Regions from separate parts of the Homo sapiens genome. Here region 2 is linked to region 1. Evidence: fine-mapped expression QTL. Tissue or cell type: Th1 cells. Region 1 holds a variant in brackets; the other region holds the start of a gene. All regions are shown on one strand. Distances are from middle to middle.

Region 1 (5,151 bases):
TTCTCCCCAGAAAATAGATTTTTCTTTTCTCTTGTATTGTCAGGCTGCAAATTTTCCAAACTTTTATGTTCTGTCACCTCTTGAATGCTTTGCTGTTTAAGAATTTCTTCTGTCAGATACCCTAAGTCATCTCTGTCAAGTTCAAAGTTCCACAGATCTCTAGTGCAGGGGCAAAATGCTGCCAGTCTCTTTGCTAAAGCATAGCGAGGGTCACCTTTATTCCAGTTCCCAACAAGTTCCTCATCTTCATCTGAGACCACCTCAGCCTGGACTTCATTGTTCACATCACTATCAGCATTTTGGTCAAAACCATTTAACAAGTCTTTAGGAAGTTCCAAACTTTCCCACATCTTCCTTTCTTCTTCTGAGCCCTCCAAATTGTTCCAATCTCTGCCTGTTACCCCATTTCCAAAGTTATTCCACATTTTCAGGTAGCTTTCTAGCAGCACTCCACTTCCGGTACCAATTTACACTGCTATGAAGAAATGGGTAATTTATAAAGGAAAGAGGTTTAATCGATTCACAGTTTATTATGGCTGGGGAGGTCTCCGGAGACTTACAATCATGGCAGAAGGCAAAGGAGAAGCAGACACCTTCACAGGGCAGCAGGACGGAATGAGAACAAGCAGGGGAAATGCCAGATGCTGATAAAACCATCAGATCATATGAGACTCACTCATTATCACAAGAACAGCATGGGGGAAACCACCTCTATGATCCAATTACGTCCACTTGGTCCATCCTTGACACATGGGGATTACAATTCAAGATGAGATTTTGAGTGGGGATACAGCCTAACCATATGACTATCTGTCTTCCTATCCATATATCTATCATCCATCAAATCATCTATGATTTATCAGTCTTCCTCTCTATCTCCCTATCTATCATCTATTTATCTTCCTATGTATTTATCTATCTAAACATCTATCTATATCTATGTCTATCCTCTATCTTCCTATCTCTCTAACTATCTATTAAATCATCTATTTATCTCTCTGTTTATCAAATCATCTATTCTCTCTCTCTCTCTGCCATTGGTTCTGTTCCTTGGAGAACCCTGACTAATACAAACACACATTAATTAAAATTAAGACTCAAAAATATGTGAAACAGAGAGGCAAAACCATCTCTGATATCTTGTCACATGACACTATTTAATTTTGGAGACCTGCTTTTCATATATTTCTTTATATCCATACACATATAGAATGATGCATAGATATTGATATTGTTTGGCTCTTCATCCCCACCCAAATCTCATGTTGAATTGTAATCCCCACATGTCAGGGGAGGGGCCTGGTGGAGGTGATTGAATCATGGTGGCAGATTTCTCCCGTGCTGTTCTTGTGATAGTGAGGTGTTCTCACGAGATCTGATGGTTTAAAAGTGTGGCACTTCCCCCCTCAGTCTCTCTCTCTTCCTACCATGTAAGAAGTGCCTTTCTTCCCCTTCACCTTCCACCATGATTGTGTTTCCTGAGGCCTCCCCAGCAATATGGAACTGTGAGTCAGCTAAACCTCTTTTTTTATAAATTACCCAGTCTCAGAGAGTTTTTTTTACAGCAATGTGAAAATGGGCTAACAGAGATACCATACATATTTTTTAATCTTGGGTCTCTCTCTCTCTCTCTTTCCTTCCCAAACATTGGCATTACTACCATCTCTCTCCACCACCAGAAGAAGCAGGGTACCTTGTGTACCAAGCTACTGAGCATCCTTCTGGACCTTCCTTCATGCTTTTGTACAAGCATAAACACAGACACAATGTGATTTAACTTTTTTTTTTACTAAAATGAAATCATATTATGGAAATTCCTCCATATCTTAGCTTTCTCACTTAATAATACATTGAAAAATTCTTCTGATTTGATCTATTTAGATCTAACTCATTTTAAAATTTTATTTTATAAATTTATTTAAAGTTTTTTAAATTCTTAGTAGGGGTGGGATCTCACTATGTTGCCTGGGCTGCTCTTGAACTCCTGGCCTTAATTATCTTCCTGCCTCAACCTCCCAAAGTGCTGGGATTACAGGCATGAGCCACCATGCCTGGCCATAACTCATTTTTAATAGCTGAACAATTGTACATGGTATGGAGGTATTAATATGTTTTCAGCCATTTTCCTATTGATTGGCATTTTCTTTTCTAAAAATCTCTACAATATTGCTGTAAAATCTCCCTGATCATATATTCCTATAGATTGTTGTGTTTATTTTATTTCCATGGGATGGATCCCTAGAACTTGCTAAAACAAATTACATACACACACACACACACACAACTTGAATTTTAATGGATATTATTGGATTGTTTCTCAATAGGTTGTGACAATTCATACTTCCACCACCAAATATAAGAGAATCTTTTTTTCCTGTGGGCCTCCAGCCATAAGCATCTGTAATTCCCCCTTGTAATTGCCAATATTATGGGGCACAATGATGTCTATTGTTTTAATGTGCATTTCCTTGCCTACCAGGGCAATTAACATATTTTTGCCCTAGTAGTTGTTGCAGATACTATCAGCGTTCTGTCAGGTCCTCTCACTCTTACCTTTTCTGTGAATGCCTGCTGGACTTCCAGCTGCCAACACCTGCATCTCCTTGCTAGAGGGCTTTCCTCAGCTGTGACAATATCTTATACTGCTGTCTTTCTTAATTGTAGATCTTCCATTATCTTGTCCATCCCTTCTATGGTAATTTGTTTATTCATGGTTGTTCCTTCCTCTGGGATCAATAGTGGCAGCTTATATTTTGCTAAAAAAATACACATTTCCTCCAGGTTTTGACCTTTATTTCTACGCATTGTCCTAGGATATTCTTAAAACTATTTTAATGCCTTCCTTATCTA[C/T]GGTCATGTTTTCTTTCTCATTCCTAAGCTTGTATATTTCTGTCCTCTTTAATTCTTGATTAAACTCATGAAAGTTTGTCTATTTTATTGGTCCTTTGGAAGAACTGGCTTTGGGATATATTTAACCTATTATTACATTTTATTTTTTTGTTATCTTAATTCCTTCTTGTGCTACTTTTTGTTTTTTTATTTCTAATTTCTTAAACCAAGCATTGAATTTTTAAAAAAATTTATTGTTTCTTCTATAATCGTGGAGACATTTGTGCAGAAGGTGCTAACTGCAGGTCTGGCTGCTAAACTCCACATGTTCCCAAAAAAGGCCTGCCTTTACGATCAGCCCTAGCTGGCTCCTGGGAGCTGAGCTCTGAGATGTTGAAATATTCTGCAGGATCAGAGAGTTTTGCATGACTGAGGCCTGGGGCTACCTGGTACTAGTTTAGTCAGATTGTTTATGCTAACAATGTGATTTATGGTGATGCTTATTTTTGCTATTTTTGCTCTGAGAGGCTGAGGGCAATCATGCATGTACTACGTCTATGTTACTGACTCTGCCAATAAAAACCGTGGACACCAAGCCTCAGGTGAGTTTCCCTGGCTGGCAATATTTTGCATGTATAGTCACACATTCTTGCTGGGAGAATTAAATGCACCTGTGTTTCTCTACTGGGAGAGGACATCTGGAAGTTGGCACTTGGTTTCTCCTGGACTTTGCTCCATGACCCTTGGCATTTTGCTGATTTTAATCTGCATCTTTCCCTGCAATAAAGTGTAATTGTGAGCACAACGGCTTTTATGACTCCTCTGAGTCCTACTAGTATATTGACAAGCCTGAGGGTGGTCTTGGGGACCCCCAACACAGCTTTCAAGGTTGTAATCTCCCAATGAGTATAGTTGTCATTGTGTACCAGATGCTTTTATTATTATTATTATTTGAGATAAATTCCTTCCTCTGTTGCCCAGGCTAGAGTACAGTGGCGTGGTCTTGGCTCACTGCAGCCTCCACCTCCTGGGTTCAAGCGATTCTCCTACCTCAGCCTCCCAAGTAGCTGAGATTACAGGTGCGCACCATCACACCCAGCTAATTTTTGTATTTTTAGTGGAGATGGGTTTTCACCATGTTGGCCAGGCTGGTCTCAAACTCCTGACCTCAAGTGATCTGCCTGCCTCGACCTCCCAAAGTGCTGGGATTACAGGCAGGAGCCACCATGCCCGGCCTGTGTGCCAGAGGTTTTAGAATGTAGTGGCCTTCCTTTCACTGGTCTACCTATAGTTGATGATTTTATTTTGACTTTTCTCTTCTATCAAAGATTTAAGTAGAAGTGGATTTATTATTTTCTGAGTAATAGAGGCATAGTTTTATTTTTTGCTTAACTGTATCAGATTATGATCAAGGAATGTGGTCTCTTAAAATTTCTTCTTTTGAAAATGTGTTAGTTTTTTTCTTTGTTTGAACAATTAGCTTCATAATTAAATACTGTTTCTTGACTATTACATGAAAGCAAGATAGAATTCCTATATACTTCAGATACTCTATTTCCCTATTGCTTTTATTCATACACCAGAAAGAAGATAAATTTAGACTACTTTTAATTTTACTTAACTCACTCCCATCCCCTCAAGGCCTAGCTTTTCCTAAATTTATAACTTTTAGTACAAGGCTGTTGTTAGTATTTCACTCACAGTGCATGGAAGAAAGAGGCTTTGTACTCTATATGGATCAGATCTGTCAGAGGCAGCTTAAATCACTTCTATACTGTTGGGAATAGAACTGGTAAGGGAAGAAAAAGCTCTCTAAAAAATAGGAGAACAGGCACAGTGTGGTGGATTCATTATCACAAGGCCAGAAAGTTCACATCCTGAGTGGTAGGTTACTTATCACAAAACTGATGAGTTAATTTACAGCTGAAGTGAAGAAAATCAATTTCCCATAACAAACGTTTTCAAGCTTTGTGGTTAAACCATTATATTTACAGGCCTTGTTGTCAAACACTTACATTCCTCAGGAATTCCTGTTGTTGTTTTTTTCTTATAACTATCAGTAAATTTAGGGACAGTACCTCTAACTGAGCTAGCACACGGTTTGTTCTCCCAGACCATGAATGCTTTTAGTTTCTAGCACTGTTTGTTTGTTTAGAGTGCTCTCGTGGCCACCAGGAAATAAATATTCTTTATCTTTTTTTTGTTATCTTGCTAATGTCAGAAGTAAGAGCTCAGGGTCACAAAGAAAATGAGCAGTAAAACAAAGAATTTCTCAGCAAGGTAAATTTACTTCCGCAGAAGGGTGCTGCTCATAAACCTGGC
Region 2 (5,151 bases), 49 kb after region 1:
TTTTTAAATCTAGAAAATCTATGCCACAACATTTTTAAGATTTGTTTTGTAATTTCATGGAATAACATGATGATAGAGGTGGACAAATTTTCACAACTTCATGTACACTTGAGTACATGGAGAACAGAAACTTGTGCTTCAAGAGTTTTAGCTTTTCTTCTCCACTCAAATCTTTTGAAACTTATCCTTAGGCTCCAAAGCAAATATGTAGTCATCTGGCATCCATTGTACAAGGCTAGATTTATATTCAATAACCCAATTCAGGATATGCATGCCAAAGATTCAGTTCAGGAAAAAATGGAAAAGAAATGTAACTCTGAACTGTATTTGCTTGGCTTTCTCTGGTGGATTTTTCTTCTAAAACTCCTTTGACTCATCCTGTAAAGGCATGTCTTTTTCACTTGCCACTGTATCAGTTCAGTTAGCCTGTTTCAGAATGACTGGTCAAGCTTGCAAAGAATGAAACTACATAAAGGATTTTTGCTGATTCAGCCGTCCTTCTATATTTCCATTTAAAAAGCTCAGCATTCCAAATCAGAATATGTAATCTTGCAACTAAGATTTTATTTCCTCTCAAAAGGATGCGTGAGGATTGCTTATCTTGTCAGCAATTATATTTGGAGTTCATAGCCTTACGGTCTTAAACTGTTGAGACTTTTCTATCACCTTAGTGGAAAAATGAATGAAGAGTGGGTGACAAAAAGATCAGACTTGATGAAAACATTGATTTTTACTTGTTAAGCCCTGAAAAATACATAAAAGATATTTTACTAACCTCCAAAGAAAGATCAATGTGGTATTCTATCACATTGAAGAGAATGAGGAATTTTGCTTAATCTCGAAACAGAGGATCTTTTGTATTGATGTTGTTTTATGTTAACTCACTACACTGCAGAAAACATGACAGGTATGATAATCAAAAATGCTCAAGGACTAAAATGAACCACACACATTGCTGTGGTTAAATTAATTTGGTAAATGTATTTCAGTTTCAAAATGTTATACTACACTATTCATCTGAGAGTGCTTTGCAGTTAATCCCAGTAAATATTCCAGGGAATACAACTATAAACTATAATGGGGATCTTCTGGCTTTTGGATTCCAATTTTAAGTTAAAAATTCTGTAAGTCCATCTAATTTTGGTGAAAAAAAAAAAAAACACGCACAAAAACCCTTTAGTTAAAATTCAGTTTTTCAGCCTTGGGTTTATTACTGTTATTATTTTTTATGGCAAGAGTGCTAAAGAACACAAGAACCCAATCAAGAAAGGACTTTTAAAATGTGAGGTATGCTTGTAGCTTTAAAAACTTTTTACATTACCTACTTCTCAAGTCTGGGCCAGATATTAGATAACGGATGTTAGCAAATACTTGTGTCCAATTAGAACCGTGCTTACATCATTACATATTCAGTAAGAATGTAGCCTGTTGCAAAGCTTCCCTGGGAATACAAAGACTCCTATTATTTCTGTCCAGAGCCACCACATTTGCCAGAATGTCTGTATCTACATTCCATAGTGAAGCCCATAGAAACCATTAATACCCCTTAGCCAAGGGGACAGATGGCTCCTTTTCACCCTTATTAGATCACAAAATAGTTGTGCATAGTGATACTTCCATCGAACTTTAATGACACAATAGAATTTGCAAAGAAGAAAAGAAACTTGCTGGCTCCATTCCAGTTGGAAACTAAGTTTTCTTATCTTCCAACACGTTTTCCATTTTAAACTGCAGGGCATAATTGCGCTTTTTGTGGCCTTGTAAAAATTAAGCAACTTGACTTTGGCAAACCACAATCTAAAATTGTAACCGTTCGAAACCAGAAGGTCAATGTGTTGCAAAACTGTGCAACATTTGGGAAACAAAGTAAAAAGTTAAAAGATTTTTCTTTATGTCCCAAGGAACTGCTTAGAAATCATTCAAGGATCGCTTGAACCCGGGAGGCGGAGGATGCAGTGAGCCAAGATCTCGCCACTGCACTCCAGCCTGGGCGACAGAGTAAGACTCCGTCTCAAAAAAAAAAAAAAAATCGCTCAAGGGGTTTTATTAATATTTTTCTAATCATGAGAAGCTCCAACCTGTGGTCTTCCCGCCACTAGAGGGCTTTACGCGCAGCCCTGAAGTTTTGCACTTTTTAGACGTGAGTTAAGCAACTTTTAGAATTGCTCGTGGGTTGTGTTGGGTGGGGTCAGGCGGCTGCGAGTGGGAAGAGAGTCTACAAACCTGTCTGAAAGATTGCAGGGTGTTTTCGGCTTCCTCTCTCTGAAGCATCTCCTCCTGCAATCTGAAACAGTTGCGCATTAACCAAAGGGGAACGAGGAAACCGCCAGGGGCGGGGCGGCCACACCCAAACACCACGTATTCGCTCTGCGCCTCCAGAGCAGCTGCGCCACCTCCGCGCAACTAGCGCCTGCAGCTTTCAGACCTGCTGCCCTCGGCAGGTTTCAGCGGGACTTCGGGCACCGCGCAGAGGGGCAATCACGGTGGCCGCACAGACCTACAGGACAGCCCCGCCATCCCCGCCCCCGAGGGACCATCCCTTTGTCTCGCTCCCTCCACCGCCTTCCCCTCCTTCCTTCTCCCGCCCGGTGATTGGCAGCCTGCCAGAAGGGGCAGGAAACTTTCTGAAAGTTTGGAGGACTGGCTCTCATTGTGCCCAAGGGCCTTCAACTGCACACAAAGTGGTAGTTTTAAGAAATCTGTAACTTGAAACGGAGCGTCCTTGGGCAATGTGTGGGGACAGAGGAGGAAATGCGAACTGCAAGGTCTGGGTTCTGGGCGGGGCTGCGCCACCACAGCCACAGCCCCGCTCTCCGCTGTCTCCCTGGCAGGCCTCCCCCCGGCCACATCCCCAAGGGCGTGGCAGCTCTCGCGGGGGCCGGGGGGGCGTTCCCCTCTCCCTCCAGCCCCCTCCCGAGGCCCAGCTACTTGCATGGGCGCAGCCTTACTTCTCCCGGAGGCGCATGATGTCCTCGGCCAGGTTGTCGCGCTCCACCTCGACGCGGGCTTTGTCGTTGGTTAGCTGGTCCACCTGCCGGCGCAGCTCCCGCATCTCCTCCTCGTAGAGGTCCCCCAGGCGCGACTTGCCTTGGCCCTTGAGCTGCTCGAGCTCGGCCAGCAGGATCTTATTCTGCTGCTCCAGGAAGCGCACCTTGTCGATGTAGTTGGCGAAGCGGTCATTCAGCTCCTGCAGCTCCACCTTCTCGTTGGTGCGGGTGTTCTTGAACTCGGTGTTGATGGCGTCGGCCAGCGAGAAGTCCACCGAGTCCTGCAGGAGCCGCACCCCGGGCACGCTGCTCCGCAGGCGCACGGCAGAGGAGCGCGTGGCATACACGCCGCCCGGGGACGAGGCGTAGAGGCTGCGGCTGGTGCTGGGGCGCAGCGCGCTGCCCAGGCTGTAGGTGCGGGTGGACGTAGTCACGTAGCTCCGGCTGGAGCTCGGCCGGCTCGCGGTGCCCGGGCCGCCGAACATCCTGCGGTAGGAGGACGAGGACACGGACCTGGTGGACATGGCTGCGGAGGGTGGCGATGGCCTGGGCGGCGGCGGTGGCGCGGACTGGCTCCCGGAGAAGAGGCGAACGAGGGCGCGGTGGGTGTGGGTGGTGGGAGCGCGGCTGCGTCTCTGGCGCGGGGACCTCGGAGCGAGAGTGGCAGAGGACTGGACCCCGCCGAGGGCGCTGTTTTTATAACCCCGTTAGGAAAGAGGGTCCCCTCCCACTGCCATCCCAGCCGCGGAGCGCGCCAGCCAATAGGGACCTAGCGAGAAGCGGGGAGGGTGGGCGGGTGGGGTGGGGGCGCCCTCGAGCCTTCCTGCTCCGGGGCCTGGGACTGGGCATGGTCCCGTTACTTCAGCGCTGGGCTGGGACTTTTGGGGGCTTTCCGGATGATAGTCTGAGCTGGGCTCACCCTGGGGTGCTGAAAAAGGCGGGGTCGCGCGGTGAGGGGGGGGTCCGCCTGGGACTGAACCAGAGGGGTCCGGTGGCACCACGCCAAAGGGGCGTGGGAGGAGGTGCGCGGCGGTCTCGGGGCTGCGGTCAGGCGGGGAGACCCGCGGGCAAAGGAGCGGGAAGAGGAAAGAGTAAGGAATCCCTCAGATCTGAAGTCGCGGAGAAAGAAACAAAGAGCGCCTGAGATTGGAACGCGGGGTGGGGGCGCGCACAGCGCAGGAACGCAGGGCTCAGGCCTCGCCGCAGCCTCGCGCGCCGCCCGCTTGGAAAGGGGGGCTGCTCCGGCCCGCGCCTCTGTCCATCGACTTGCCTTGGCGGAGAGATGTTGGGGGGAGGGGAGGTTCTGTCGAGGGACCTAACGGGCTCAGTCCAGCTTCGGACGGCGGGAGTTGCGAGACGGCGGTGGCAGAGGAAAGCCCGAGGGAGAGGGGTGGGGTCGCTTAGTCACCGGCGGTGACTCACCGCGCCCTGCTGTCCCGCCGATTGAGGGCTCCTAGCGGTTTAGGGGAAACCGTTAGACCAGATTGATTCAAGTCTCAGCGGGCTCCGCGCGCGCTGCTAGTTCTCAGTGCTACCAACTTACAGCTGGGCCATCGCCTTGCTGTGTGCGGTCGGGCCCTGTGGGGGACAAGAGCGCCCCTAAGTTTTTAATAACTCGCTAAAGCCTGTCTTTGCTCGAATGTGCGGACTTTTTGTTAGCAAGAAACTTCTGCAGCCTTTGGAGAGGCGCCATACGTGGGCCTCCCAGATCACGATTGCACCGGGAAGGTTTTTCTTGCAGAGTCCCCGCCCCCGTCCCTCTGGTCTCCTCTCGCTCTTCCCCCTCCCCCCATGAAACCACACCCAACTTTTTAAACAAGATCTGAAAATTCTGGGTGAAAGAGGAAACTCGACGTCCGTAGTTTCAAAATAGAACTCAGTGATCAGTGGTTTTTACCCTGGTGGAAGTCATTAAAGGTATAATATGAGCCAGTTAAAGAATTAATTAGGTGTTGCTTAAAAACCCCAATTTGATTAATGAGTTCAAATGAAAGGCAATTATGTAACACAAATGACAGAATCTTTGGCGGCAATAGATTTATGTGTTAATTTTAGGACAGCAATGCACAGTACAGGGTTCACGGTGATTTGTCTGGGAAATGCCATAGGTCCTGTTTTCCAAAAGAATTCGTGCAATTGACCTTGGGGTGAGGGGGATAAAACT

Alleles and levels. Positions count from the first base shown, and alleles are read on the strand shown. Sizes are in standard deviations (SD) of each study's normalised expression.
In carriers of allele T in region 1, the expression in Th1 cells of the gene that starts at base 2,949 in region 2 tends to be higher than with C alone (large effect, 0.77 SD a copy in Schmiedel 2018).

Evidence for each region. PIP is the estimated chance that this variant, and not a neighbour inherited with it, causes the effect.
Region 2: VIM-AS1 starts here. The variant in region 1 is fine-mapped to the expression of VIM-AS1 in Th1 cells (Schmiedel 2018, PIP 0.95).

What each region holds. Positions count from the first base shown.
Region 1 is chr10:17,277,212-17,282,362 of GRCh38, reverse strand. No RefSeq gene overlaps it. Among named protein-coding and RNA genes, the nearest start is that of VIM-AS1, 50 kb to the right of the region's middle. The variant C/T (reference allele first, on the strand shown) is at 2,851.
Region 2 is chr10:17,227,783-17,232,933 of GRCh38, reverse strand. VIM-AS1 (VIM antisense RNA 1) reads left to right here and starts at 2,949. Exons shown (of 3, transcript NR_108061.1): 1 at 2,949-3,589. VIM (vimentin) reads right to left here and starts at 4,693. Exons shown (of 10, transcript NM_003380.5): 1 at 4,410-4,693; 2 at 2,949-3,658; 3 at 2,224-2,284. The coding sequence starts at 3,511. RefSeq lists a silencer at 2,785-2,964 and an enhancer at 3,275-3,364.